Linked DNA regions of Homo sapiens: regions 1 and 2 are each linked to region 3. The links come from fine-mapping of genetic effects on gene expression. A gene starts in region 3. Each other region holds a variant in brackets. All regions are shown on one strand. Distances are between the middles of the regions.

Region 1 (10,275 bases), 25 kb after region 3:
GCATTTTTTCGACACATCAGTACCACTAATGGATGATGGAGACGATAACACTCTTTACCATCGGGTACGTGAACGGGCTGCAAAGCTGATTGCTGTGTCTGTGCACCCCATTCTGCATCTTTCACCTCCTAGACCTCGATCTTCTGTGCAGTGTCAGTGGATTGATACAGTTGACTTGTATATTCATCAGGTTGTTTTGCAGCAGGTGGAAGAACAGCCGTACTGTTTCTTCCTTTCCAAAGGCCACAGGGAGACCTTGTAATCTGCTTTCCAGAGCCTTTGGGAAAGTGGTCAACACCCTGCCTTCTTAGGAAGAGCCCAGAGAAACAGAGGGCTATCCCGGGGGTTTTGTTTATCTGCCCTTGTGGAGTTGGCAGACGTGGGCTTCTGTCTTCCCTGCTATGGCCTCAGAGCTTTAGATCCTGCTGGTTTAGGGAATTTGAATCTTTCCTGTTAGGGAAAAATGAGTGCTTACTGTGCTTTGTAGAAATATTTTCAGAATTCATTTTCTTTAAATTATTTTCATTGTCTTTAAATTATATCTAAACAAGTATACCATAGCTTTCCTGAGAGGGAAAACAATCTATCCAACACATTGTGCACTGTCTTGCTAGGGTTTTACAGAGGACCAGTTAGTTCTGGTGGAGCAGAACACACTGATGGTGGAAGAGCGGGAACGAGAGATTCGCCAGATTGTACAGTCCATTTCTGACCTGAATGAAATATTCAGGGACTTAGGGGCGATGATTGTAGAACAGGTACGTGAGCTGGCCTTCCTCGTGAATAGGTTTTCCTGCCATACTATCTGTACCTTCTTTTTCCTGTACTCCTTTCAGGGAAAAAAATTGGAGCCAATTTTCCCAACATGTGTGTGCACCTGTCCTTTATGTGTGTGTGGGTGTGTGTGTGTGTGTGTGTGTGTGTGTGTGTGTGTATATTAATATTAATCAAATATTAAATTTGATTAATTTTAAAATAATAGGACTAGTGTTGAAACCTCAGTGTTTACATTTTTTACTGAAGTCTCCTGGGTGCTAATTATCAGAGGAGTGTGGTGCTTTGAGAAAAGCCCTGGGGGGTTGGAATGTTGGAACCCTGGCTCTTAGCAGTTTAACAGTTACATGATTCTCATTTAATCCCTCTGACTCTAGTGTTCTCATCTGTAAAATGGGACTAATAATCATAGTACCATCCTCATAGGATGCTTGTTAGGGATTAAATGAGAGGAATGCAATAATAATATGATATATGATAATACAGGTTGAACATTCCTAATCTGAAATCCAAAATGCTCCAAAATTTGAAACTTTTTTTTGAGTGCCAATATGACACTCAAAGGATATATATACATAGCAATCCTAATCAGAAAATATGAAGTTCAAAATGCTCCAGAATTCAAAACTTTTTGAGTGTTAACATGATGCCACAGGTGGAAAATCCCTACACAAGACCTCATGTGACAGGTTGCAGTCAAAACTTTGTTTTATGCACAAAACTAGTAAAAATATTGTGGCCGGGCACGGTGGCTCACATCTGTAATCCCAGCACTTTGGGGGGCTGAGGCACATGGATCACCTGAGGTCAGCAGTTCGAGACCAGCGCGGTCAACATGGTGAAACCCCGTCTCTGCTAAAAATACAAAAAAATTAGCTGGGCATGGTGGCAGGTGCCTGTAACAGCTACTCGGGAGGTTGAGGCAGGAGGATCGCTTGAACCTGGGAGGTAGAGGTTGCAGTGAGCCGAGATTGCACCATTGCACTCCAGCCTGGGCAACAAGAGTGAAACTCTGTCTCAAAAAATATATATATATATATTGTATAAAATTACTTTCAAGCTATGTATATGAAACATTAATGGTATATGAAACATAAAGGTATAAGAAACATTAATGAATTTTGTGTTTAGACTTGGGTCCCATCCAGAATATCTCATTATGTGTATGCAAATATTCCAAAATCTAAAAAAAAAATCCCAAATCCAAAACACTTCTAGTCTCAAGCTTTTCAGATAAGGGATACTCAGCCTGTATATGTGTGTATTTACAAATTATATACATAGGCTACTGTCATTCCCTATAAGAATATTAATAAATCTTTTTTTGATAAATGAAGTTCTAATATTCTCTTCCCATGCCTCGAGGGTACTCATGTGAGCACCCTACTCTAGAGACCTAGTTGACTCTGACCGAGCTCAGCAATGATTCTGACGCTATAGAAGATTTCCCTTCTAATTTTGGCAGGTTATTGTGTAATGGCAATTGGAACCACTAGCGTTCAAGTAGAATTAAATTGTTGTTCACCGTTAAAATCTGATTAGGGCATTTTATTATCTTGCCAGCAGGGATTTGGGTCCTGATCCCCCTGAAACCAACTGCAGAATGGAGTGTTCAGGCTCTGGAAGATCCAGTTACATTAATTACTCCAGTGGTTCCCAGTGAACTGCTATCTCTTCTAATCCAGCATGTTTCCAATAAAAGCTCTGTTCTTCCTCATAGCCCAGTGTCCCCGTCTTCCAATTTAATTGTTTAAGAGATTAAACAATTAAACATCTTCCCCTTGAGTCCAAATTTTTAATTTTAGGTGGTAGACTGGAGTTTACCATTTCCTGCTCTGACCCATAGAGATGTGGATCCACGTTTATAGACGTGATAGTCAATTTGCAGGTCTACTTATGACAGGGGCGAGCTTACCTGGTGTTCTCTGCTTACTTGAATCCAAGTACGTAGGCAGCAAATGGGCGCAGAGCTTCTGTGCTGCTCAGAGCCTCTGTCCACTGGACCATAGATTTCTTAGGGCCCCAGGAAGTCCGAATATGGCATTTCTATGGCAGCTGAAACCAATAAGGAAACCTCAGTCTGTCAGTACTTCTTTCTCGTGAGCTAGATGTGATGGCACTAACCAGCATTCTGCCATCGAGCTCCTGACACTGCTTGAGGGTGAACTCCAGAGCCCTCCGTGTGTACCTGCAGCACACAGGGAAGGAAAACATCATCTTATGGATGATGATGTCTGTAATTTGCATATCTCATTTTTGACGTTCAGTTTTCCCAGTTGCTATTGTTGATTGTCTGTAACTGTCATTTATTACCTAGGGTACAGTCCTTGACAGAATTGACTATAACGTTGAACAGTCCTGTATCAAAACTGAAGATGGTTTGAAACAGCTTCACAAGGTAATATGTCTTTCAAGACTTGGGAATCTTAGGAACTATTTTCAAATAATCAAGAATTGGTAAGAGGGTTCTTTTCCACCATAACGATCTTCAGCATTCTTGTGTTGTCCACTCTCAATACAGTAGTGTAAAAAGGGATTCATCATTTCATTTAAAGCCAATTGTGGGGGCTGTTGCCGTTTTATTGCAGTTAATGATTCCAGGTGTATCTCACACTTAAATCCAAAATTGCTAAGAACTCCTTTTTGTGACAGTAAATTCTAAAGAGATTGGAGTTCTTTCTTTTAGAAAATATTTCATTCTTTTCTAATGCTTCTTGTTTTAGGAAATCAATTGGGCATTTGCTAAAATATGTGTTGAAAATCTGTCTGCTTGTTGCCGTTGACTTGGGCCTCTCTTGTGATACATTCCTGATGAATTGCTGATGGAGAATCATTCTGCAGAAGATAAAAATCTAATCTTCTCTTTAATTACCACAGCATATCTGTATTACCTTGAGAAAAGAGAAGTTTGTTGAAGTGAGAGTAGTAATTCTTTTATTCTGTGCTAATAAGGTAGCTGTTTCAGGGATGTTTTTATGATATTCTCTTTTAAAAAAATAGATGGAAAGCATCTTAGGAATCTTATCGGTTATAAGAAACATGCATAAACGGCTGAGACTCTCATATATAATTGGTTACGTATTTTCTTTAAAAGGAATATAACAATACTTCACAAATTAAATAATATCCATTTCCTTGTATCTTTGAGACCCAGTGGAGTTTCTAGCCATATAATGAGTGTTTTGCCAATTCACTGTTGGACTACTCTACCATTTTTCTGAAATCAGTCGCTTCCTATACCAGAGATCGCCCCATTTAATAGCAGTATTGGGTTTACAAAAAGTCAGCCCTTGCACTAGTCTAACCAGAAGCCCTGAGCTGTCTTTTCAGGGGGCTTGTTGCCATGTGTAGGTGGATATGAGACTCCAGCCTGTGGTGGGAAGAGAAGTCTGACCTTGTCT[A/G]TGCAGGGTTTTTTTAAGCATTTAGATTAATTTGGTTGCCAAGCCCTGTCTATTAAAAGTGAAAACTAACTTAAGTTTCTCACTCTGTAATACCCAGGTTTTGATGTGCTGCTGAATTATGCATTGGTTTTGAAGTTTCTTAAATAAAAACTAGTGAAATATGTTTTGTAATATAACACAGATAAAAGGAAAAGCTTTCTCTGCGGGAGTGAGCAAATCTAGTGGGAACTAAAAATTTTGTTTTAGGTTCTACTTTATAAATCATTTTGAGAGGTTTTACAGTATATTATTTAGTATTGGCTTCCCTGGTGTTCTGGGTTACTTATTAGAAAAGTCAGCGTGCTCCATCTTCCCTCCAGCCACAAGGCTGTAGGCAGCACGCGCGTGCTCGGCAGTCGGCTAGTCTAAGGGTGATTGAGCGTCGGGAGCTGCTCCCCATGACCGGACTCTCGGTGCTGTCCCCGTGCCTGATGTTTCCTCCTGGTGGATGAGGGGCTCCTCCAGGTGGGCGGGCAGGCTCACTTAGGAAACAAGCCCACCGCGGGGGATGGAGCAGGAGAGATTGCCATTCTCGCCAGGGCTGCCTTCCCGCTGTCTCCTCCTCCCTCCTGTGCCATAGCAAGGTCTGGAAGAGGCAGCGCATGCTCTCCCTGGACGTGCCTCCCGGCGCCCTCTGAACTCTGCTGTCCTCTGGCTCTCCTTTCTCAGTGCTCTGCGTCTTTCGCCAGCCAGGTGGGGCCCTTTGGCATTTCTCTAGCAGGCATGATGGAGTTCCCGCTCCTGCCGAGCTTCCAGGATGCGGTGTTAAGGTGAAGAGATGTGCAGGGTGCAGCCTCGTCCCCAGATTGAGCTTGGAGGGCTCCTTTGCTGTATCGTTAGCGGCACTGGGAGGACGCGCCTCAGAGGGATCTTTCTGCATATGACATCCATGGGGCACACGTGTCTGTTTTTATTTCAAAGGATGAGTTTTTGTTTCCAAATTTAGGGGAGGTCGAAATGGGGCCTCTTCCGGGTGTCTGTTGCCTACCTGCCAGGTACGGTCCTCCAGCCCGTTGTTTCCTTCCGCGGTGAAGGAACTGTGCATTCGCTCCAGGAACACGGACCGGGAACAGGCGACCCGTGCTGCAGGGGCACTTGCCACGGCCTGCAGGAGGAAAAGCCGGGAGAAGCAGGCCCAGCTGCACCCGGAAGCATGAGCTTTCACTTCCCTGTCAGGCTTTGTCTTAGTAGTAGGTTTCCAACAAATCCATTTCCACGTCCAGGGTAAATAAGCAGCACCAGGATCATGGGGCTCTTCCACTCCTGGTGATTGAATTCCGTGGGATTGATTGGAGGGATTACAATCATGTAGCCTGTAGCAGAGACCTCAGTCACTGTGCAGAGAGATCTGGAAGCCTCATTCTGGAAACGAGTGGGACTTGATTTGGGATTTTGGGGAAAATGACGGCCTTTTTTCCCTCCTCTTTTTGTAGGCAGAACAGTATCAAAAGAAGAATCGGAAGATGCTTGTGATTTTAATATTATTTGTCATCATCATTGTGCTCATTGTTGTCCTCGTTGGCGTGAAGTCTCGATAAGTGGCATTGGGTTTTCGTGTGTGCCGCGCGTGTGGATCTCCCGGGTGTGAGGGGCTTGGCCTGCGCCCCGCCAGCTGCCCGCAGAGGTGCAGCCTCGAGGAATCTGAGGGCGTCGGGGCAGCGAACCTTTGCATCCACGGACTCCTCCTTCCCTAGTCCTGCTCAAGCGGTCCGGGGAATGGGTTTTTGTTTTTCCTTCATTGTTGAGAATTTAAGGACCTTTGATACTGCTGCACAATAGAGATTGAGTTCTGGGATCAGTTATAATATATATTTTTTTTAGAAAGAGAAAATGAGCTGAGAGTTTACAGGCACTGCAGAAGCTGTTCAGTATTATATGTGTATATGCTATTTTTTTAGCAGCCATGTCTGAGCAGAATGTTAACATAATTTTTGGAAAAATTTTCTTTAAACCATCTGGTTTTTAAGAAATTTGGTACCAAAAATTGATGAGTAGAGGCAAAAATGCCCCTTCATCTTTCTCTATATATTTTCCAGTTGAAAACAAACTAAGAAGTCCTTTAAGAATTTATAATCCGTTCCCCATTAACTTAATTTAGCTTTTCCATCACTGTTAATGATCAGAGTAACAAAGTGTGAAAAATAAGAAACCATCATTGATGTTAATTAACACATTTAGATGGGCCAGTTAAAACAGCTTCATAAGTTTTAAATTAATTGTAAATGGAATATTCCTCATTTAAAATTTTTGCACTGCATTTTCTACTGTAAACCAAAAGAGGTTACTAAGCAAAACCACCTAAATTTAAGTTGGTGATTTAAATGAATCTCACATTAAAAGAAAGCTTGACAGTGTTATGAAAGCCACCAGACTCAGCCAGTGTGTCCCCATGGGTATCCCCAGCCATCCTTGCTCAATCCATTACTTATATACTAACTACATAATGACCTGTTCAAACCAGACTCTATTTAATGAACTGTGAATTTACACAGAGGCCATTTTAAATGGGTCACCCCATTTAGGATTAGTGGATCTCAAATTATTAACCAAACATCACTCCATTTCAAAGTAAAATATTCCACCAGCGATTTGATTTATTGGCTCTTCCATTGCCACTGAGCAATGCCCAGGAAGCAGGCACATTGCCAAGGACTGGGGGCATCTTGACTAGGAAGCTCCTCGTTTGTGTGAGCGTGGGTCAGACCGCCAAAGTAGGACTTCATCGTTTACCTACCTATTATCAATATGGTGCTTGAATATATTCCTATAACTGTAGAACAGTGTGGAAAGTGATGGTAACTTTGAAGTTGTTCATGTTTTATTGGCTTTGTTTTAATTGACACTAGTAGAGTTTTAATGGTCTTTGTGTAAATTTTAATGGCTTTTCCATTGTTTTTGCTTCTCTTAAAAAGTTTAAGAAGAATATGACCTCATTAAATGTGCTGTTTTATTTGGACCAGTCACACAAAATGTCTCTCTAGAGTTGACTTTAAAGTTGTTTACAGAAATTTAAACTCAATTCCAGAGATTGAAGTTGTCCAAACAGCTCATGGGCTTAGTGTCCAAACCCCTGCCCAGCCTTCCCTTTCCAAGTTGGTGCCACCTCCAGGTAGCCATTGGTGGTTTTCCTATTACTGATGTGGCTGTGGAATGATAAGGTCCTAGAGGGGCCCTGGCATTTCAGGAAGCGGACCTGGTATTCCCTGACAAACATTGCTTAGGAAAGAGGGCCGGAGAATAAGAAGCCAGCACCTCATCAGTCAGCCCTGCAATGTGAGACTTCCGTAGCTGTTGAGAGTCACTGCAGGTGTTCTTTCATCCCATCTGATTTTAACCCATGGTTGAGACGTTCCAAGTTAGATCTGCTGCTCTTAGGTGTGGGGCTGTCCACATTAGGGAACTTGCCTCAAAAACAGTCCACAGTGGCAATACCGGACTTCTGTTCAAGCTTTTTAAAGTGCTGAGCCTTACAAACCCCTGAAGGAAAGTGACCCTTTAAGAGAGGATCATCTTTTTTTATATTTATTTTCACCAAATAGGGTGATGAGGGTTGGTTTTTGTTCCCTCAACCCATTTGGGTAAAATAACGGATCTGATTAGAAACTGTTTTAAGGAGGGGCTGGGCTCGGTGGCTCACGCCTGTAATCCCAGACTTTGAGAGGCCAAGGCGGTCACGAGGTCAGGAGTTCGAGACCAGCCTAGCCAACATGGTGAAACCCCGTCTCTACAAAAAATACAAAAATTAGCCGGGTGGGACACGCCTGTAATCCCAGCTACTCAAGAGGCTGAGGCAGGAGAATAGCTTGAACCCGGGAGGCAGAGGTTGCAGTGAGCCGAGATCACACCACTGCACTCCAGCCTGGGTGACAGAGCGAGGCTCCGTCTCAAAAAAAAAAAAAAAAAATTGTTTTAGCGCTGGGTTTCCCAAGGTGGGAGAGACAGACCCAGCCTGGAGCTGGCCCCTGGCCTGTGTGCTGACTTCTTGGGGTCCTCAAACCACTGTATTTTTCTGTTGAGCCTGTACTTGGGGAGAGATCAGTAGCATTTGAGGAAGTAAGAGAAAAGAATCATGGTACCTCAGGGTTTCTTTCCCTTTACTCGCTGGCAGCCATTGTCTGTGGGCACCTCATGTTTTTCCACACTCTACTGGGCCGTGGAGGTAACGATCACCCAGGCCAGTCTCCTCTGCCTGGGATGCGCCCTCTGAGAGGAGGCCTAGCAGGGCAGGCTCCCTCTGGGCATCCCTGGATGCAGCCTCTGGACACATGCCTCCTTTAAAGTGTCCGGGTGCAGCTCAGGTTGAGTGGAGGTAGAAGGAGAAACAGACATGTTTACCACGCGTTTTCCAAAGCTCCTGATCTTTCCCAAGATTGTAACTGAAAACTGCTGTCTCTTGTTTTGTTCGTTTTGGGGGTGGTGGTGCTGGCTGGGCCATGCTTGTGAAGTGATGTGTGTCTCTGATTTAACGGATTCACTGTTTTCTCTGCTAATTGAGAGAGCGTTATTTACATTATTTATTTGTTTTGACACAAGTGCTTTCAGTGTTTTATCCTAGCTAATGGCTTCTTAAAGGTAATAAAACCCTTCCAACGTAATTGGTCAGATAAAACTTTTTTTCTTGTATGCTTAAATAAAGCAATTAGTGAAGCACTTCTATCCAAAATGACTTTTTTGTCCTTTTTTAAAACCAATTTACTGTTACTGGAAACTTTTTGTACAATAAAGCAATCACGCAGATTAAAGAACATCCTGCAATCCTAGTATTAATTTTAACAATGGGTTCATGTTTTCTTCCAGTGCATTTGTGTTAGGGGAGGGCTTGGCCAGTTTTGTGATCCTCTGGGCCCCTGACTCTGTTTTGTGCCTGAGGCCTTTGCCTCAGTGTCCGAAAGTAGATCTATCTAATGGATGCTTTCAAAGGGACAATCTATTTACTATCTGATATACAAAAAGAACAACTGCCTAAAAGGCAGATAAGTATTTTTCTTATGAAAATATATGCTTTATATACATACCAAGAAACATTTGGAAATCTCCAAATAAAACTGTGATGTGCCTTGTTGAGAAGCAATTCTTACACACAGGCTGTAAGAGACTTGACTTTCTAAATGATTTTGTTTCCTACTCTGTTACACCAAAAACTTGAGAGACAAGTGTCTGCCAGTTTAACTCAAAGCCAAGACTATGTTTCCCCTTGATTGTGCCTGTCCTGGGGTCCTCCGAGGAGGACCTTTGTCCTGAAACTTGACTTTGATGCATTTGTTTTGCTGGTGGGAGATGTGGACCTGAGTGATGGTAGGGGTATGTGGTTTCATCACCAGAACCTATACAAACAAAAAATAGCAGCTGTCATGCCAGGTCTCTTTGGCACCCTTGGCGTTTGGTCCTGAGGTGTTGCGGCGACTCAACAGCAGAACCCTTCAGAGCCTGTCAACAAACCACACAAAAGAAACAACCTCCTCCTCTTGCACTCTCACCGTGTTTTTTGTTAAGAAATTACATTTCCCCAACTCGCATGTTGGCCACTGGCTCTGTCCAAGAATCAAATCCACTCTCGAGGGAGAGACGTTTGCCATAGGGTTCAAGAATATTCTGACCGGCAATGCTATTTAATAACATTGAAGAAATCCTCCATCCCGAAGGGGACCACATAAAGGCGGCAACACCTCTTTGGTGACCTCTTGGGTTATGTTCTCAGCTGAGTCTTTGGTGGCCCAGTCTTGAACCAGCACTACAAGAGTATGCAGACGCAGTCTGCAGAAGCATTGCTGTCAGTGGAGAGCTGCAGGATGCCACCAATGACTTGGAGGCATGACTTGCCAAGAGGCCTGGAAGTGGGGAGCCACTGGGGTGTCCCTTTGAATGCTCACTTTGACAGCAGGTAAACAGGCTGGATATGGATTTCCTCTGTGAAATTTAGCAACCATCCTATAAGAAGTCTGATCCTGATCCAACGTTTGAGCAATCTAGAATCCTTCCTGGTCCGTCTGCCATAGTTACGTAGCCACAACAAAATTTACCTAGCCTAGCACCATTTCTATCTAAATCTAATAGGATAGCA
Region 2 (10,275 bases), 55 kb after region 3:
GGTGGGGAGGGGAAGGTGAGGTGTGGGCCCGGCTCTCCAGGGTGCCCTGGGGTTGGGGTGGGGTGGGGTGGGGAGGGGAAGGTGAGGTGCCGGCAGGCTCTCCAGGGTGCCCTGGGGGGGGGGGAGGGGCCCAGTTTGGGTCCAGCCAGCCCTCTGAGAGGTGTCATGGGGTGGGGGGCGGCGAGGTTTCTGGGGGTTCTGGGTTGGGGTGGGTTCGGGGAGAGTGCGCAGGGCGGGTTCCCATGTGCTGAGGCGACAGCTTCACGTGGCTCCCTGGGTTTCATGCCCACCCTTCAGAAGGGTCTGGAAACAAAAGCCTGGCCAGGGCCCAAGAGCAGCCCCGGAAATGACGGAAGAAATGGCAAGCAGGGCCAGGGAGGCAGGGCTTGCTGCTTGGGGGCTTTGTCCCGAGAAGAGAAGGGCAAGGGGACGCCTGTGTCTCTGAGTCTGCCCATGGTCCCCACTGAGAAAACGCTCAGAGTGGCCACACAAGACCCTCCAAAGGCACGTGACCCCCAAGAGCGAGGGGAATCTGGGCACGGCACAGAAGCGAGTCACCCGGGAACATCCCGGTGCGGTGGCCCTAGAAGCCTGTCCCGTGGTACGGCTTTCTGTCCTGCCATCCCAGGAGGACAGGTGCTTGTGGAGCCCCCGTCGTGGCCGAGTCTGCCCGCCCCAGCAAGCCCTGCCCTCCTCCGCACCATCTCCATCCATTCATCCTACACACCGTGTGAGCAGCCTCTGTGCTCAGGCCTGGGCTGGGAAGGACAGGGAGGGAGCAGACTGGGAAGTACATACCTCAGGAGGTCTGGAAGGAGCAGGGAGTGCATCCGCAGCAGACACTGCAAACTAGCAGCCTGCAAGGCTCACGGAGGCCTGGCATTTTTAAAATTTGAATTAGCTACCAATATTTGAAACCAGGAAGGATTCTCATCAAAGCCTGGATTTCCGGCCTTTTGTGCACTCAGAAGGTCTGCCAGTGCTGGCGTTCTGTTCCCGCCTGGCAGCATTCCCCTGCAGCCAGTGGGCCTGCCCCTGGTGTCACCCATTCTCCAGTTTGGTTTGCGGTAGGCCCCACCACTTGCTGCTGCCTTCCTGACACTGAGCCCTAGTGTCAGCTGCTGTTCAGGGTGGCGCTGGTGCAGCTCGCCGCGCTCTCTAGCACGCCTAGTTTATTTCATACCTGGAGAGGATGAGCAGTTCCCATCCCTCCTCTAAACCACAAAACTGTTTAGAACTAAGCAGAAAATGACACTAATCATAAAAAGGGTTTTTTGTTTTTTTTTAATAGAAAAAACATGCCTCCCTATGGGTCTCTTGGGGTAATAGATGGTGGAATGAATGTTTGTTTCTGGCTTTGGGTCTTAGCATCTACACGTTTGACAATGGTTTCATTTAAATTGATCTTCTTTACTAATGTATGTTCAGTAGGCAGAGTTGCCAGCTGTCTTCACTCATAGTTGGTCCAAGAATACTATCTGTTAACTTTGATTTTGAAGAGCTCCAATCTCGTGAGGCAACAGATACACAGATACTTAGGAAAAGTCTTTAATACGGTATCATTTGGCAGAGATTCTTAAAAATCCCATTTCACAGTAAATTCCAGCAATCACAACACCCACTGTGTGTTCAGTTCTTCAGGGTGGATTCTTGTGGCTTTCAGATGTCTGCAGAACAAAAGCATTTTGGACACAGTAACTCCAAGTGTTCACATGGAATGAGGGAAGTGAAGGAACGCAGGTTCCGCGTCTTCGTTTTGACCATCCCGCACTCTCGTGTTTTATTTTGGGTCCTCTGTTTCGACACCGGGAGGTAGGAAATCATGGGCCCTGGAGGCCCCGACTGTGCCCAGAGCCAGCCCACAGGATCTGACTGTCAGAGCGATTCTCAGAAGGAATGTGGGTAGTAGATTTTGTGTCGGGTCATTGCTAACGTCCATGTAATGTTACTTTCAGGATAAGTAACAACGATATGCGAATTTGAAGCTTTTGTTTGTGTGATTAAAACGCAACCGTAGCCACAGCAATTTTTTAAACTTCAATCAACAACAGATTTTCGGAGGAGGAATATGTTATTGCTGACTTTGTTCAGAGATACCGGCACACGGTGGTAATAAGCAAACTGACTTCTAGTCGGTTATGATTCCTAAATTCGCCACAGATAGTGCACCCCCTACTGCCTGCACCTGGTACTGGCTGCTCCCACCCTCGCACGCACCCTCAATACCCACGGTCACCCTGGAAGCCGCTACATTCTGGCTGGTAGAGTCGTGGACCCTCTTCTCCTTGGATCAGATGCTTGTTTTTGATGTCGGCTTGTTGTGGACCAATGTGAGAAGATGAGCTTCCTGGGAATTCATTCGTTTGCTTGTGGCACTAACTCTAGTCACTTAGGGAAAATATCGTTGCACCTGACTTCATCTCATGTGGCTGTGGGTAGACCTGTGCAGTTAGTCAGCTCCCGGCCTGGAAATTAACACAAAGGAAAAACCTGACCACACAGGCCTTCCCTAGAGGCCACAGCTGCACAGCCTTCAGGGAAGCTGTGGTCTGAGGGTGGCTGGTAGAACTGCCAGAGAGTAGGGCATTTTCCATGGCTCCAGATCACCTTCTGAAAATGCGACTATAGCCCCTGCCTATTCCCGGGGTCCACCTGGTCTGCAGACCCCATAATACCAGGAAGAGCTGGGTGTTCTGGCACCAGTGAAACAATACCTGGTTTTTTATTTTAAACCAGCCCATCTTCCCCGCTGCAGTTGGAACCGTTCTACGTGGATTTGGGATCAACCAGCAGGCCTTTCCTGAGCTGTTACTGTGTGGAGTGGGCGCTGAGGCTCCAGCCATTGATGCAAAGACCCCAATCCTGACCTGAAGGCGCTCACAATCTCTCCCCAACGGCCTGGTGTGAAACGCAGACGCAACGCAGCAGGCATTCTCCCCAGTGGCTGCCTGTAGAGCAAATGGTGCAGAAATGGTCACTCCTCAAAAAGCAAGCCGGCTGGAGCCAGCCCAGCTCCCAGTTTTGCAAGAAAAAAAAAATCACAGCTCCATTTTCAAAGATTTCAAGGGCAGCTCAAGACCAGCCTGGACTAGCAGGCCTCAAATGCATTACTGGAGACCCCTTTACGCTCTTAACAAGTACCGACCCCAAAGAGGCTTTTTGTATAACAATGTCTATTGATATTTACTCTACTGGAAATTAAAAGTGAGAAATTTATAACATGTATAATTCATTAAAAATAACATATAAATCCATTGCATGTTATCATAAATAATTTTATGAAGATAAGCATCTTCCAAAATGAAAAAATAATTTACTGAGAGAGTAGCATTGTTGTACATTTTCACAAATCCTGTCAGTGTCTGGCTTAATAGAAGACAGCTAGGGACCTTGCGTCTGCTTCCGATGTAGTCTATGGAAATGTGTTGTTTCAGTTGAACTGTATCAAGAAAATCTGGCCTCACGCATTTTATAGTTGAAACAGGGAAAAGGATTTTAGTACCTTTTTCAGCTAACTAACTATGAACATTCTTTGCTACTACACCAAAACTCAACAAGTGGTAGCTTCTTAAAGGCTGGTTATAACATGGAATCTGAAGCCTCATGAATAGACTTTTGGGCTCTGTGGCAGTTAAATCCGCTGTTCTCTCTCACTTTGAACATGTGGTTTTTCATGGAAAAATGAATGTTCACTTGAAAAATGTTGGTTCACAGAGTTCTGCAGAAATTCAAATTTTTGACACATTACATTATATAGTATCAAAAAATCACTTAATATCACCATCCATCTCATCAGAAAACTCATTATGAGGAAGTTGTCATGGTGATAGGAGAAAGTTTTTCAAAATTCTGATTTTTGCTTAAAAGCTCAAATGTATACCATTGGCAATAAATAATGTCAGCTGTTTCTGGAAGTAAGAGGCTCAGTTTGTTCCTTTTCTGGGAAATATCTGCCAGATACCTAAATCCAATTAAATGCCATTTGTCTGTCAGTTTTTCTTTCAAGTAAAGATGGTGTCGTGGCCAGAGTGGCTCATGGAGCTCAGAACTCCCCCAGCAATCACAGCTGAGCTTCTGCTCTGACCGACCACTGCCCGTCAGCAACAGCAGGAGTACATTATGAGTCACACGGAATATGGAAAATGTATTGTACCCAAGGGTTGAGAGTTTTAAAAATTAATTTTACTGCTTCAGCAAGGAAATTCTAACGTGAAATTGGCATTGGTTCATTTTCCCAGAGGGCACGGAAACGAATACAGTGGCTCCCGGACCTCTTTGGGACTGTGGCCTGATACTCCAGCACAGGGGGTGTAAGTGTCAGCCCCGTGAAAAAGGCAGAGACCGTCTTAAATCACTGCGAAAATGGTTTCTTCTATAAAAACAGAAACAACATATGGGGGCTGGTGAAACTTTGCACAATCAATCAGTTGAGCTGTATTTGCAAGCCCAGTCCTGGCTCCACCTGCAATTGGGAAGGAGCTGGCAGCTGTGACGGGGGAGACATGGTGTACAGTGAGCAGCCGTTTCCAGGCATTGCTGTGTGACCCATTTTGCACATGGTTTGATTCCAGATCGGAGGCCCTGTTTTTCCATTTAAACAATCCTGTGCTTTCTCAAACAGATTAGCTCAGAAGAGATGGCTTATTTTCAGTAGTACAAGATGGGTCATTTTCACTCAATTATAAAAGCAGCTCAATTTACATCTAAAAATACTTTGCACTAAAATTCAAAGCTTGTGTAATAAGATAAGGGTTCAAAAATGATTCAGTAAATTTCATACCCAAACCTTTACCTCTGAGGACCTGCTGTTAATTTAAAATATGAACTTGTGAATTTGATTTGGGAACCTGTAAAATGTAAAAATGTGTAACACTGTCAACCAGCGTATAGGAAACAGTGTGGACACTGCAGGAGAAGGGTGGCCCCTCTTTAGACCCAGGTTAACCAGGAGGTGTGAACTATTAACCAGGAGGTGTGAACTAGCAGGAGGGCAGAGGTGGCCCCTTCTTCTGGCGATAGACCTGGCAGTGACATGAAGGAGCGACAGGTGTCCTCACTGCTGGTGGTGTCAGTGGGGGTGGATGTGACTGATTTTGGCGAAGAGTTCACATCAACCCTCACCATCATTCAAGGTTGTGATGAGGGGCAGAGAATGCTGAGCCTAAGTCTCGTTAGGTGGTAAAGCCCTCTAAGTGCCAGGGAGAGGAAGCTAGGCCCTGTTCTGGGGGGCGACAGGTGGCCAGGGCAGGTTTGCATTGCGGCAGCAGCCCCTCAGGCTTCCTCCCTGCCATAAGCACACTAGGAATCTGCAATGGGTGCAGGAAGCACGCAAGCCCACCCAGGTCCCTGAGGTGCTGGCCAGGGACCTCCAGCAAGCCCCAGAGGCTCCCTGGACCTCAGCTTCCTTCTCACGCTGTGCGGAGGAGTGGAGAGAGTGGCCCTGCAGACAGACCCCCAGGCGGCGTGGCAGCCCGGGACTGAGGTCAGGGTGCCCGGCGTCAAAGCACGGGGTCCCTGTTTCAATGTCAGAGCC[C/T]GGCCACAGCGAATTCTGCAGCTCCGGGCATCTCCTCGGGTTCCCCCTCCGTGCAGTTACTGTTTGATAACCCCAAAGTTCTGTCAAAACAAAAGGGAGCCTCACCATCTATGGCCATGACTCCCTGTTGCTTCTGGAGAACACCCCACTTGGCCAATATGAGGTTCATGAGTTCTGTGGGTGCCCAGGAGGCCTGGTGTGGGGGCTGCCCAGGCCTGAGAGCTGGGGAAGGTGGGGCTAGCGTGGGGCCGGGTGGGGGTGGGGGGCTTCCGCTGCCAGGCCTGGACCTCACAGCTCACCTTTGTCCTGGTCCCTTTGTACCACCCGCAGACTACCATGCCGGGGATGAAGCGAGACTGCGGGGGTGCTGCGGCCGTCCTGGGGGCCTTCAGAGCCGCAATCAAGCAGGTGAGTGGGCCCTGCCCGCCCTCTGCAGGGGCATCCTGGGTGTGCCTCGTGGGTGCTCCCCTCTCCCCTGTCCGTCCCGCCACAGGCCCCACCAGGGTCCTACCCGAGTCTCCCCAGCGGATGCTTGTCCCCCCTCTGCCCCCAGGCTCTTCTGGGGCCCCCAGAGCTTCCCGCCTTCATCAGAGCTGCTCTGGGAGGCCCCGAGGGCAAGGTGCAGCCATGTTCTCTGCTCAGGGCCTGCCTTGGCTCCAGAGCCCCATGAGCGGTTGGCTCAATGAGGAAGCCTGGCCTAGACCCTCATGGCATGTGGCAGGCAGAAGCTCATGGCAGGGGCACACGTTGTTCTGCGTACCCCTCCCGCAACCCTTCTTTGCAGCAGAGCTGCCTCTGGTGACTGGTCTCACCAAGTCACCACCTCCAACCCCCAGGCCTGGCCAGGCCCCCTTCCTCTCTTGCGTGGGCAGGTGCCCCAATGCTTAGCCCTTGCTCAGTGGCAGTAGTCACTCGGGGGGCGTGGGGGGGGTGGGGGGTGACCTTGAGTGACCTTCCCATGGAGCCCAGATGTCCCTGGGGCCATAAAAAGTGCTTATTAAACAAATGAAGAGGCCAGCTCATGCTGGTAATCCCAGAACTTTGGGAGGCGGAGGCAGGAGGATGGCTTGAAAGCCAGAAATTCAAGACTACCCATAGCAACCTTGCAAGACCCCGTTTCTATAAAAAAAAATTTAAAAACTAGCCAGGCGTGGTGGCGCGCACCTGTAGTCTCAGCTACTTGGGAGGCTGAGGTGGCGGAGGATCGATTGAGCCCGGGAGGTTGAGGCTGCAGTGAGCTAAGATCCCACTGCTGCACTGCAGCCTGGGAGATAGAGCGAGACCCTGTCTAAAGAAACAGGCCAATGAGGAGTGTGCATTGACTCATCAGCCGAGGTTTTACCTTCCTAGCCTACCTTTCTCAGGCCAGCAACCCAGTTCCTTGGGGTAAACTTGAAATGGAAAAACAAAAAGGCCTTGGCAAGTAGTTTCCAATCTGGAGGGTCCTGCTCCTGGCCGTGAGGGAGGAGGAGGAATCCCAGGAGGAAGGAGCTCCTTCTGCCGGGGCTTCCCAGCTGGCCGTGCACATTCCAGACTGTGTGACGGGCTTCTGCTACCAGGCCCAGCCGGTGGGGACACGGAGGTGCGGGGCTGAGGCGGCCTGGGCAGGAGGGGCTGGCAGGCCCTCACCTGTGCTCTGCACGGGTTTGGAAACGGCCTCTTAGGGCTCACGGCTGTTTCTCTCGTGCTGAGCACACAGCTGGGGCTGTACGCAGCCTGCAAGCCCCATGCCTCCATGAGCACCTGCCGTGGCCCGTCCACTGCAGAGCCTGTCGGAAGAGGCTGGAGGAGGAGCATGTGTCCTCTGTGCGCTACTCCTTCACTGGTTATAAACTACCAAGGGACACGGCTGGCACTCAAGGAGGGTCTTGACTGCCCCAGCATCATAGGCCACGGGGCAGGGTGGCTCTGGGCTCCCACTACCTGGCCCTCCTCCTTGCCTCTGCCCAGGCCCCGTGGCTTTGGCAGATGGGCTCACCAGAAGAATGCTGAGGCGGACGGGCCCAGCTGTGCGGTGCTCGCTGGGCAGCTCTCTCTGAAGGGAGCAGTTGCTGCTCTGGGGTGGCACGGGGGCAGGGGTGGGCAAGTGGTTCTGGAGGAGCCGTGTGGCCAGCCCTCTGTGGCCGTCTTTGCCGTTCACCCCTGGTTACTCCTCCAACAGAGGGTCTGTCCTGCCTCTGGGACAGGCTGGCTGGGAATGCCCCAGCAGGAAGACTCTTCTGAGCTTGAATTCCCTGTTCACAGGAAGCCACTTGACAAATGATCACAGATTCATCAGGCAGCAGCCGTGAGTGTTCTCAGCACTCCTCCACCTCTAGAGGTGCTGCGGCCTCTAGAGGTGGAGGAGCACCTCTAGATTTGAGGGGTGCTGAGGACACCCCACCCCCACTCTGGACAAAGATCCCCCTCCCACAAGAGCTCCAGCCTGGAGGCTCCACTGTGAACGCGAATGTCCTGCTTGGCCTTCACATATCCTTGTTGGCCTCTTAGAAAGGAATACGCCTCTGTCTGAGCCACAGAATCAATCCTCAGGGTAATGCATTTACCCAGAGAATAAAATCAGCATCCACGTGTCCACACTGGTAGGAATAGATCACTGAAGGAATAAATGAATGGGGGAGAACCGTTTCTCACACTGAATCCCAGTTTCAGGCTGCAGAGGTAGTGATGGAAACAGGAAGTCGTCACCCCACAGCCAGGCTTCATTCCAGGTGAGAGTGGCCCACAGTGCTGGAACTGGAGCATGAGAGTGGGATGGGAAGAGGACAGTCAAATGCTCTCAGAGTGCCTCTCGCAGCTTTATAGTGGTGACACTCACAACCCAGCCTAACCAGGTGTCCCAGGGCATGTCACCAGGGCAGGGACAGAGCCACCTGACATGCCTCCAGAGGCAGTGTACAGGGAAGGACAGAGCATTTCTGCAGGATTCCCACCAAAAATGCATGGCCTGCCTGTAGTCACAAGGACACGTCAGACAAACCCAGCACTGAAAGTGCCAAGGCCACAAAAGACAAAGCCAGACTATGCAGTCGCCCAGATTAAGGAGGGCAAGCAGGCCAGGCTTGATGTGTGGTCTGATCTGATCTGGACGTCTGAGGAGCACATGGAATCTGGATGGTCCCGAGAGGTGATGGTCCTGTGTTGGTGATTACTACCCCCTGCTGCCCATTGTCCCATGGCTGGACAAGATGCTGACATTGGCAGAATCTGGGTGAAGGGTGTTGAGGAATTGTTTGTGGCTTTTTTTTTTTTTTTTTTTTCCCCGAGATGGTGTCTTGCTCTGTTGCCCAGGCTGGTGTGCAGTGGTGCGATCTCGGCTCACTGCAACGCCTCCCAGGTTTAAGTGATTCTCCTGCCTCAGCCTCCAGAGTAGCTGAGATTACAGGCATGTGCCACCACCCTTGGCTAATTTTTGTATTTTTAGTAGAGACAGGGTTTCACCTTGTTGGCCAGGCTGGTCTTGAACTCCTGACCTCAAGTGATCCGCCCACCTCAGCCTCCCAAAGTGCTGGGATTCTGGCATGGGCCACTGCTCCTGGCTGTTTGTGACTATTTCTGCAATTTTTTTGTAAGTTTGAAATTATTTCACAGTGAAATGTTTTGAACTTTTTAGAAAGAGGATGTACCATTCAAAGATGGAAGGGTACGCCAGGAGCTCGGTGGCCCTGGGCTCTGGGGGTGTTAGCGACCCTCCAAGCCTGGCACCAAAAAAAAAAGCCCCTGACCCACTTACCAACCCAAAACCCTTGGCCGCCCTGGGGGACCAGGCCCAAGCCCTGGCGTAGCACTGGAGACCCTTCCCACGCTGTCGCTGAAGCACTCACAGTCCAGCCCCATCTTTGGCCACCCTCTTCTGTTAGACCAGCAAGTCCCAACTGTGCCAGGTAACACCCAGGAAGTGTGTGAACATTGACAGCTCCAGGGCTCACCTCCAGCTCTGCTGAGTCTTGGATTTTTTCAGCCGCTCCTGGTGATTGGAGAACACCTCCAGACTGGCCGTGAGGGCCGCAAGGGCAGGGCCGTGCCTGTGCTGTCTCTGTCTCACGTCTTCCAGCCGTGCAGACCTCAGCACTGTTTGCCCCAGGACTGCAGCTCGCTCGTCTTCTAAGCCAGCACTTCTCAAGTGGGGTCCCCATGTTGTTAGTAATATGGGTTCTCAGCTCTGCCCCAGACCTGCTGGATCAGAAATTAGGGGCAGGGCCCAGCCTTCAGCGGGTAGCAGCCCTCCCTGGGAGGCTGAAAGCATCCATTTGGGAATCCTCCTCCTCCCCGCTCCTCCCTCCTCCCCCCCCGCCTCCTCTCCTCCTCCTCCTCCCCCCCTCCTCCCCCTCTCCTCCTCCTCCCCACGCCCCAGCAGGCTACAGATCCAGAACTCTGCTTTCTAGGAGGACTTCAGGGCTCCCCTCCTTTGTTGGTGGAGCTCATCTCTGTGGCGTCCATGGCCTGGAGCCCCATGGCCTCATCCTGTGACCTCAGGGTCATGCTGTCATTTATTCGTTGTTCCTAAACACCCACTTCTCCCTGGAATGACCACAGGAGGCCTCAGCACAGGGACAGGCCGTGGTCACTGTACACACAGATGGAATGTCAGTGCTGGGGTATCTGGGGAGGAGCTCTGAGAGGAGGAGGCTGAGGGTCCTGAAGCCCCTGCCCCGTGTCCCTGACACAGGCTGGGCTGCGAGAGTGGGAGCGGGGGACTTGGGGCCCTTGTGGAGCTGACAGGTGGCTCCGATATCATCACC
Region 3 (10,275 bases):
TAAGGGCCCTGGGAGAGGAGAGTCCTCTCCCCACACGGTGGACAGGGTAGGAGGATTACTTTCTATTGAATAGTCTGAGACAAGAGTGGTGAGAAGGAGCCAGTTATTTGAAGAACCTAGGAAGGAGAGCAAAGCAGGTGCTAAGGAGGTGTGAGGAATGGTGGGAAGGCTAGTGTGGCTGAAAAGGGGTGAGCGAGGGGGACAGAGAACTGCCCTAATCTCTCCACCCATTTTGAGTCTTGACTGTCTGGTATTCTCTAGCACTTAATATAGTTAATCTCACCTTTTGTGCATTAATCCATCCAGTCATCCATTCCGCAAACATTTATCACACCTGACAGTGTAGGGGGTGCTGTCTTCAATGAAGGGTTCACCAAGCAGAAGGGGCAAGACACATCCCCCGCCACTACCCCCACCAGGCAGAGAAAGGCCTGTGAGCCAAGTCCTGGAAAGAAAAAAGCTCACCATTTAGGTGGGGCCTGTTGGGCAGGGCTTTGAATGCCCAGGGGGCACTCCGCCATGTGGAAAGTGTAGAAAACCTAAATGCAGAACTCCAGGAAATACTGATCTATGGGAAAAAAATTGTACTGAAATCCATGATTCTGGAATAAATCAGATCTAGTCTTATACTATATTCTAATACAGCCAAGTGGTGGCAGGGACTGAAGGTTTAAGAGAAAGCGAGAAGAGAAACACTTAAGATGGAGACTACTCCATTAATTAGCTTCATTTTTTTTTTTCTGACAACCAAGAAAAGTCCATCATTAGTTAATATTAGTGATGCCCAGCTTGGTTCAACTTAGAGCACCTGTTTTCTGCTGAGCGTCATTTGAGATCGGCTGGCATGGGCCAGAGGGAGCTGTTTCAGGGCCTCAATCAGGCAGTGACATGATCAGATTTATGCTTTGGAAAGGTCACTGTGGCTGCAGGATGAGGAGGGAAGAGACGGGTGGTTGTTAGCAGGCTGCTGGGAAAATGTACACGATGAGAACCAGAATTTGGGTAGAGACAGTGGAGATGCAAATTCCCTGAAGGCAAGAGTTTTGCTGTTTCATTCTTTCAGCAGTGCCTGGCAAGAGATAGGCACAGCCACTGGTAGATTTTTAGAAATGCCTACTGTATTGAATTGTCTGGTATTAAAAGCTACGGGACTCCAGACAAAACAAAAGTGTTGCCTCTCTCCAGAGTCTCCCTTCTTGGGAGAGGCATCATAGCTGAAGACAGACCCAGATAGGGAGTTTTCTGTTGTTGGAAATACTCAAGGTTTTGAGGAACTATTTGGGGACACAGAACACACAACTCCTGTTACCCGAACCTGGCCCGAATCTGTCTGTCAGATCTGTGCAGACGAGACATATGTTAGGCCTGGGGGCTTTTGCTGCTTGATAAGCAAACAACCATCTGTCTTTCTATAGGTGGGAGAAAGACCAATGTTAAAAGGTGTCTTTGAGATGGTTTAGCCCCCTCTTCCACATGAGTGTGCACTGCAGACACATCTGGATTCCCAAGGTCCAGAACAAGAAGCTCGGAAACGTGCTTAGATTTCCAAGTGTTCAGTTCTCAATACCATGCCATTCTCTTTGGAGTTTATGATGCCTTCCAGGGAGAGCAGAGCCCACGTGAGCTTTCCAACAGTAAGACTACTGCTGTAATAAATCATATTGCCCATTTGTGGCGCACTTACTCTATGCTGAGGTTGTATAAGGGCTTACATGAGCCCTATCTCATTTAAATTGTTTTCACCAAAGGGTGTGTGTCCCACTGCTGACCTGTTGAGCTAACCATCCCCTCTCAGTACTTGAAAACCTGCACCTGCCCAAGCCATGGCCTGGCTTCAATGGGGCTTCCTCCTGCACTGAATGAGATGACAAGAAAACAATGAAACACTTGTCCCCAAAAGTGACTTATTGGATTCGTTGGCAGAATGTTAGAAAGTGGGTATGAAGCCCAAGAAACAGGACACGGAGCCTCACCAAGCCCGAGGAGTATTACCGAATCCTAGCCCAGGCCAAGAATGAGTCACAATGAAAGCTTTTAAAATGTAAAACCATCAACCTAGATTTCAATTCCAAGGAAACACATACTTGGCCATGGGGGAATGCTTTAAAAAAAAAAAAAAATCAAGCTTAAGTCACTTGACAGGAAAATAAAACAGCCAAGGAACATTCAAATATAATGATTTACATCCTTCCCCAACTCCCTTCCAGTGTGGGTCAGGGCGAACATGGACCATGGACGTGACTGGAGCCAGGGGTGCATGCCCTCTCTGGGCTCCCTCTTGGTTAACACTATTTCAGGCACACAATCCCATACCTAAACACAGCCTGCTTAGAGCTGCACCGTGCTGCCTTTGGGGCCTGGTCAGAGCTGCACGGTGCTGCCTTTGGGGCCTGGTCAGAGCTGCACGGTGCTGCCTTTGGGGCCTGGTCAGAGCTGCACGGTGCTGCCTTTGGGGCCTGGTCAGAGCTGCACGGTGCTGCCTTTGGGGCCTGGTCAGAGCTGCACGGTGCTGCCTTTGGGGCCTGGTCAGAGCTGCACGGTGCTGCCTTTGGGGCCTGGTCAGAGCTGCACCGTGCTGCCTTTGGGGCCTGGTCAGAGCTGCACGGTGCTGCCTTTGGGGCCTGGTCAGAGCTGCACGGTGCTGCCTTTGGGCTGCTATGCCAACTTCTTGGATTTTCCTGACCTCCCCGCTGTTAGGCTCTTGGGTTGCTTGGGGTGGCTGTTTTGGGAATACCAGGATTTTTCTTCCATTATTTGTGTGCAAGCAGTGTTCATTTCGCTCAAAGAAATGGAAGCTTGATTGATCTCCTAAATGTAAGAATGAGATTGTCCTGTAATAAATATTTAAGACTGACCAGGAAAGGCGACCACCATCTGCTGAAACACAAGACCAGGAATTACTTTGCTAAGCTTCCTGAACGGAGGGAATGAATGAATAACCATCCTATATAATATTTGCTCAGCACCTGGTAGTTTACAAAGAGTTTTCACTTACCTTATTTGATCTTCACAATAACCCCAGAGAAGTAGACAGGGCGCGGATTACGAGGATTACGAAAAACCCACATTTTTTTCTTTTTTTCTTAACAGATAAGGGCTCTAAAGGCTTAAAGTCACTCGAGGGAGGTCAGAGAGTTTGGGGACTAAATCTCGAGTCTCTCATTAATTCATGCACATATTTAAAAAATATTTATCCGGAGCCTGTTCCAAGCCAGATGAGATGGCAGTGGGTACAAAGATGAATAAAACACTGTCCCTGCGTAGGAAGAAGATCACGTTCTAGCCTGGGGGAGAGCGCCAGGAAAAGTAAACAGGTCCCCCCCTGCTTTGTGAGGTGATGAGTGCTGGGGAGATAGGAAGAGAGTGGGGACCATGTTTCTAATCTGATTCTCCTACCGACGACCAGCTCAGTTGTTATTTACAAATACCTGTCCCCTAAAGGGGGGAGCGGGGTTGGGGGGGCTTGGCCGTGCTGCTGGGGTCAGAGCTCGCAGGGGGGTTCTGCCGCAGTGTGGGGACAAACTCTCCCTTATTGGGCAAATATTTCCCGGGGCGCTACGCTAAGCACACGGGCTCCCCGAATTTCCCTCCCCAGGGCCTCTCTGTCTTTGGATGGCCTGTCAGCAAGTCCCTGCAGCCTCCAGCCCGGCCCGCGCGGCGACCCAGTCCCCTGTCGCCCGAATCTTCCACCGCTGCGAAGCGTCCCCGGGCGAGCGCCCTGCTCTCCGCGCTGCGCGGAAGCCAGAGCCGGTCCTCACAGTGAACTCGCCCAGCCCTGCTCGCGGCTCTCTCGATTTTATGTGGGTTTCGTTGGATGCATTTTGTTATTTGCCTCAATGGATGTTTCACATTAATTTTTAGTTGCACAACGAACGCGCGGGAACATTCTCCGTGAGAGAAAAAGCACGGGTGGGGGGCGGTTACCGGTGCTTCCCCCGGTCGCCTGGGGGTCCCGCACGCGCCCCGCGGGTGCCGCTGTCTGGCTGGGGTCCCTGGGTGAGCCGCGGGCACCGGCTTCGCGTCTCCCCGGGCGCGACTCCGCTTTGCAAGCGCTCAGCACACGGGAAACCCTCGGAAAACACACACGTGTGTAAAGTTTGTTCCACGCAGAAACAAAGGACGCGTGGGGGCCGCTTCTGGGGCCTCGGTCCTTTGTTGGAACCCCGCACCGCAGCCCGGCCCGCAGCCTCGCCCCGCAAGGGGAAGCCGGCCCTGCACAGGCCCGGGGCCCGGAAGGCGCCGCCGCACAGCTCTGCGCCCCCGACCCGCTCCGGCCGCGCGCTGGGCCAGGCCCTTGGCCTCAAGCCTCCCGGGCGGCTCCGGGCCGGACCCGGGTCTCCGTCGCGGGACGCCAGCCTGTTTGTGGGTGCCGTGCTCGGGCCCGGGCGGCCCCTGCCCGACGCGGCCCCACGGAGCCCCTGCACGAACCCCGCCGACCTGGCCCGGGGCGGCAAGTCGAGGTGCTTAGGGCGCCCTGGGCCCGGCCAACCGTGGAAAACCCGGCCCGGGGCACGGGGGGGCGCGGGGGTCGCAGGGCCAGGGCCCAGGCAGGGAACAGAGATTTTTTTCGCGGGGAGGGGGGTGGGAGGTGTCAAAGTTTTCGGGGAACTTTTCCACTTGAGATTCCACGACCCTGCAGTGCCCCCTACAGAAAGCGGCAGCTGGGGAGGGCGGGCGCCCCCGACGACCCCCGACTGCCAGCGGCGGCGCGGCCAGGCTGCCTGGAGTTCTTGTTCCTTTTTTTTTTTTTTTTTTCCTTTTATTTCCTCGTGGTTGTTTGTCGGATACATCTTTTTCCAGAGTGGGAAAAAAAAAAAAAAAAGCGAGCGCCGCCGCCTGCAGTAGAGCGTGCTCGGCCTGCAGAGGCAGTCGTCTCCAACTTTTCCTCTCCCGCTCCAACTCCCCGCGCCCAAAACTTCAGTTCTTGGGGAGCCCAAATTTGCCTGCCGCGCAACTTCCACTCTAATTCAGCGACCAAGGGCCCTGGCAGCGGTTTGCAGCCTGGGGGCCACGCTCCCCAGGCTCAGGCCTGCTCGTTGGCCTGCTCCTAGTGCCTGGACCCAGTTGGGGGAGGCGAAACAGGGCGCCCGAGGAGCACCCCGGGAGAGGGCGGAGCACTCCCGTGCCCCGGGGCAGGAGTGCAGGGAGCTCCCGCGCCCGGAACGTTGCGAGCAAGGCTTGCGAGCGTCGCAGGGGGGCACTCGCGAGGGACGGACAGGAAGAGGGCCAGGGGGGAACGCCAGAACCCGGGACCACAGCACGGAAACGGTCCGGGGCTGAGCTGCAGTCAGATCCGGGGATGGAGGGAGCCGGAGAAGAGGAGTGAGAAGGCCGGGGAGGCAGGCCCTGCTGTCTTCCTGCAGGCCGGCAGCCTGCTGGCAGTGGAGGACCAGGCCGTCCAGGAAAGGAAGGGGTCAGGAGGTCGGGCAGGGCCTCAGCAGGTTCAGACAAGTCCCCAGAAGGGAGCTGCAGGCGCCCTCGAGTCCAGGCCCCAAGCCTGGCTCCGGTTGTCCAAAGAGGGCCTAGGCCAGGCCTCTGGTGCGGAAACTGAGTCACAGCCAGACCTCAGGGCACGGCCTAGACGCTTACGAGCCAAAGTTAGGGGTAGAGAGCAGAGACCTCCGGGGGGTCTCAGGGAGTAGGGGGCTTCAGGGCCTCCCAGTCTAGAGCCGGATTGGCGAGTTAGACGCTTGTAGATCCAAGGTTGGATTGGGGTGGGGTCTCTGGGACGTTGGATCGCTACGCAAGGATTGGGGGGATTCAAGTGCTTAGAGATCGAAGTCTGCCCTGGGTAGGGGGAGTCAGACAATTGGAAAGCCTAGGTAGTTATTTGGGGAGGGGTCTCTACGCCTTGGCGAAGCGCACAGCTGCATCTTTTTGGCTTGAGGCCTGAGGCCTTGTCGAGAAGCTTCCGTGAAAGGGTGGGCCAGCCGGGCCACGAGAAAGAAAGTGAATAAATCAGGAATATAAGTGGGCGGGGGGCCCCTGAGAGGGGGGTCGCAAAGGGTGAGACATGGCCACCAGGCGTTTAACCGACGCTTTCTTGTTGTTGCGGAATAATTCCATCCAAAACCGGCAGCTGTTAGCCGAGCAAGTGAGTAGTCACATCACCTCCAGCCCTCTGCATTCACGTAGCATTGCTGCGGTGAGTCTCCTGGCGGCCTCTCCGACACACGGACCGTGTGCACTGCGGCTCTGCCTGTTTGTCTGTCTCTGTCTGTCTCTCTGTTTAAAAAGAGAAGATAAGAATAATAAGACTAAGAATAATAAGATCTCTTGGCTAGAGTCAGGGGGCATCTGTAGCCCTGGATGAGGAAGAAGCGGTGCTGTGAGGCCGCAGCTCCACCTCTGCCCGGTCTTCTCCTCACTTCCGCAGCACCCCCCCCCCCGCACCCCCCGCCTTGGCGTCACTGCGCTACAGGCCGCCTGTAATTTACATATGTTTTAACGCTAACATTGGGAAGCATTGGGCCTTTCTGAAGCCTTTTTGTTTCGTTTTGTTTGAAGCTCCCCTCCCCCCAGTAATGAGCCTCAGTTTGGTCCTAAGGGCTGGGTCGCCGGATCGTAGACCCAAATCCTTGCAAAATGAACGACTCCCTCCCCTCAAAGAGGAGGGAGTTGTGTTGTTGTTTTGTTTTGTTTTGTTTTTCCGCCCGTTTTCTTTTAACGGCCCCGCAGCCCTCTGTGTGGCCTTGTTCCCTGTGAATAATTGCCTCACTGTTCTTCCTGGGGGCTTGCGTTTGTGAGACTCAAGGTGCTAGCCTCTTCACTTTCCATTTCCCAGACAGGAAATTAAGCTTTCCTCTCCATTCGAACTTTTTAAAAAAAGCCTGAGGAGGTATATGTGAAAATTAACCCCGTAAAATAGCACTTTTTTTTTTTAATTAACCACAACCTTTAGTTAGCCTAGCAGTAGCGTTTTTTAAGGGTGGTCCTGGAAAAATTACTGTTTGGGGTTTGTTTTTAATGGGGGCTACTTTTCCCTTTCTGAGCCTCAGTTTACTGCTCTGTTAAATAAGGGGCGAGTCTGGATGATCTATACCAGACAGTGATCGTTAGCTCTGTAATGTCTTCAATTGAAAAGTGAAGTTATGAAACTGGCTGTAGTTCAGGCTACCTGCTGTAGGCAGACTAGGTTGGAATAGAAGCAGCGTTGGAACAGGCGGGAAATAGCCATCCCAGGACCACATTCTTGGGGGTTATACTTGATATTAGGCAATTTTGGAACATTCATTTCACCTCTTAGGGACTGTATTGCCAGTTTATTTTTTTCTTTATGGCTTTATCTAAATGCTTCAGGAAAATTTTGCCATATGTCATGATTATCATGTCTACAAAGACAGTTTCTCCTTTTTGTAAGTCACAGGTGGAGAATGTCTTTGGCCATATAACTGATAGAAAAGTCATTTTAAGCCGTGTGAGCGGTTTCAGGAATAAAAGCATGTAAACTCAGGTCAAACAGCCTAGAACTAGGGACAGAGTGTGTGTGAGATTTCAGTTAATTAAGAAGTTGAAGGGTTTTTTTTACATTTATAAACGGAAAGGAATTACATTATATTGAAATAAATGTAAAGATGTCTGGTAGCATAGAAACAGGCTAATTCTAGCGCTAATTTTGAAGAAGAAATAATCCAAGAAATCGAGTAGAAATTGGATGAATTCAATTCCTTAATGGAACTTCAGTAATGTTAAATAAGAACTGCATGTTCCTTAAATGACTTGATTTTGTGCTGCCTCAAAAACTACTGAAACTCATATTAAGATTTCTAAGGTATCAGTTTTAATTGAAAAACATATTGTTTATTTTTCAATTTTTAATCATTAAGGTTCAAAATACCCTGAACCTTTGGGTAACATGAGGGTTTTTTTTTTTTTCCCGATTAAGTCAGACAGTTTAAAAACCTAGTATCTGAGACGGGAAGCTTTTTAAAAGTGCATCTCTGAATCAGACCACTTTAGAAAATTATTTTCTAAGTTAGGCAATTTTAAAAAATATTTAAGCTAAGCAGAATAATTAAAAATGGATAGTTAACGTATACAGTTTGGAAAAATAGATATGTCAGGGTATATACAGATACATTTAGCTAACTCACAGTTTTTTGAAAATAGATTTCTAAACCCAACTAAAAATACATTTCTAAGAACGTTAAAAAATGTTTTCTAAATGTCATACCATTGAAAATGTTAATATTTATATTAGTCTGACCATTTAAAATCTTTCTCAGATCATTGAAAGCAGTCATATCATTTAAAATATCCTTATAGTCAATCCATACTATCTCAAAAATAGGTTTTGCAGTCTAACAAACATAGTTTGCCTGAATTCAAATTTAAAAATAAAACACAGATTTATATATTTTAATTGTGTTAAAAAATGGCATGTCATAAATTTCTGAAGTATTTAGGGTTGAAGTGTTACATCTTCACTTTGCTTACAGGTGATTCGTAACAAAATCTATTCTGCACACAGTACGGCGAAATGCTAACAAGACTAAATAGAGGTTATGATTTTTTCAACTTTTCTGGAAGTTGGAAAAGCTTTATAAACATTTTGAAGCAAAAGCCATGTTTAACACAATTTGTAAAATCTATTGAGTAACTCTTAGCAATGCTTTTCACTGCATATCTAGCTCACAAAAAATTTAAAGCCTTGTTTCTGACTTGTAAATTTCAAAGCCATGTAGCAAACCAAACAAAATCGTATCTGTCAAATTTTGAATATGGACTAGGTATTAGGTGACATTAAGGAATTAATTATAATACATTACATTTGCTAATTTTATTAGAGATGCCTACTGAAATGTTTAGTGGTGAAATGTCAAGGCATCTTACCTAAGTCCTTAAACCCCTCCAAAAATAGAGGAAGCAAATAAGGCAAATTGTTACTCATTGTTAAGTCTAGTGATGAGTATGTGTGCGACATTTTACCATTTTGTAGGCTTTTCTGCATGTTTGAAAATTTTTAAATAGAAACTTAAAGTAAGTATATTTGTTATAGTAAAGTAAAACAGTTAAAAAGAGGCAATTTGTAAATACATGTCTAACACTCAGGCAATTTGAAAGGAAGAAATTAAACCTAAGTTTAACTTAATTTAAAAAATAATAACCTGGAATTTTAAGTTTCCAATTAGAAGAAAAAGCTGTAGACTTTGATCTTGATGCATTTGATACCAACTAAAAATACACCTAAAATAACAGACTTTTTAAAAAAAAAATTGTAATCCTGAATTTTGACATCTTATTTCAGGAAAAAGCTGCAGAAATTAATTGCAGAGTAGTGTGTATCATACACCTCAAAGCAAAGCACACCTAAAGCCATGCCATTCAAAAAATTTAAACATGCATTTTTTGCATCCTAGTTTGAGGGAAAAAACTAGAATTTGGTTGTTGTAGTGGGGTTATTGTGTGTCCCTGTGCGTGCATACAGGGTTTTGCAGCATTCAGGCAAATATGTCAAATAAACAGGAATTTAAGGAGGATACGCAGTGACCAGATAAACACAAAGCCTCAAGGGCCAGAAGGAACCTAAAGGTCATTTGGCCTAATGTCCCCATTTGTGATAACCCCTCATGCCTATCTTATTTGGCCATGGTGTATGACAATGATGGAAAATGCCAGCAGCTCCATGATTTTTACCACTAAAAAGTCTTTGCCTGTTAATCCCAACTATTTGTGTCCTGGGGTCCTGCTTTTAGTTCTGTTCCTTCGGGTCTTCCTTCTGTCTGGTAACCCTGCAGCCTTGTTACCCAGAATTCTTTCCAGGCCTAGCATTCCCGGCTCAGAGTGGTTATGCTTTTTTCCTATAAATGATGTTTAGTTTTTCTGTATCCTTTTTAGATTTCAGCATCCAGAACTGAGCAAAATTCTACTTTTTTGTGTTCTTAGTTGTATTAAAGTTAGTAAAACTAATTGTAAAAAAACAGACAGGTTTGACTTTATGCACTCCTAACAAAATACAGTCGTATTTCCCATGCATTTTACTTTGGCCTCAGTTTTGAGTGCCCCATCACGTTCATGCCTCAGGGCAGCATGAAATAAAGGAAAGAGCACTGAGAATTGAATCTGAGAATTGAGGCCTAAGTCCTGTTCTGCTGCAGGCTCAGAGTGTGTCCTTAGGCAAGCCTTTAATCTTTTCGGACATTTTTTGCCTCATTTGTAAACTGAGGGGTTTGGGTTAGGTGATTTCCAGCAGCCCTATCGATTCAACAGTATTTTCTCAAGTTCTGTTTTAATACATTGTTTCTCCTGACTTTAGCTTTAATTTGAAAAGGAGAA

The links. PIP is the estimated chance that this variant, and not a neighbour inherited with it, causes the effect. A credible set is the group of variants that fine-mapping cannot tell apart.
Region 1: its variant is the best candidate, but not a certain one, in a credible set for the expression of STX16 in whole blood (INTERVAL, PIP 0.84).
Region 2: its variant is the best candidate, but not a certain one, in a credible set for the expression of STX16 in whole blood (TOPMed, PIP 0.86).

What each region holds. Positions count from the first base shown.
Region 1 is chr20:58,670,540-58,680,814 of GRCh38, forward strand. STX16 (syntaxin 16) reads left to right here. Exons shown (of 9, transcript NM_001001433.3): 6 at 1-64; 7 at 615-758; 8 at 3,092-3,172; 9 at 5,648-8,987. The coding sequence ends at 5,752. It overlaps STX16-NPEPL1 (STX16-NPEPL1 readthrough (NMD candidate)), which reads left to right. Exons shown (of 23, transcript NR_037945.1): 6 at 1-64; 7 at 615-758; 8 at 3,092-3,172. Among named protein-coding and RNA genes, the nearest start is that of NPEPL1, 17 kb to the right of the region's middle. RefSeq lists enhancers at 1-105, 106-761, 5,288-5,813, 5,814-6,338. The variant A/G (reference allele first, on the strand shown) is at 4,176.
Region 2 is chr20:58,701,260-58,711,534 of GRCh38, forward strand. It overlaps NPEPL1 (aminopeptidase like 1), which reads left to right. Exons shown (of 12, transcript NM_024663.4): 7 at 5,864-5,941. STX16-NPEPL1 (STX16-NPEPL1 readthrough (NMD candidate)) reads left to right here. Exons shown (of 23, transcript NR_037945.1): 17 at 4,239-4,310; 18 at 5,864-5,941. Among named protein-coding and RNA genes, the nearest start is that of NPEPL1, 14 kb to the left of the region's middle. RefSeq lists enhancers at 242-774, 775-1,306. The variant C/T (reference allele first, on the strand shown) is at 5,534.
Region 3 is chr20:58,645,994-58,656,268 of GRCh38, forward strand. It overlaps STX16 (syntaxin 16), which reads left to right and starts at 5,290. Exons shown (of 9, transcript NM_001001433.3): 1 at 5,290-6,145. The coding sequence starts at 6,014. STX16-NPEPL1 (STX16-NPEPL1 readthrough (NMD candidate)) reads left to right here and starts at 5,260. Exons shown (of 23, transcript NR_037945.1): 1 at 5,260-6,145. LOC107985410 (a long non-coding RNA gene) reads right to left here and starts at 3,642. Exons shown (of 3, transcript XR_005647058.2): 1 at 2,996-3,642. RefSeq lists silencers at 1,500-1,794, 4,193-4,552 and enhancers at 2,482-3,019, 6,049-6,318, 6,156-6,659.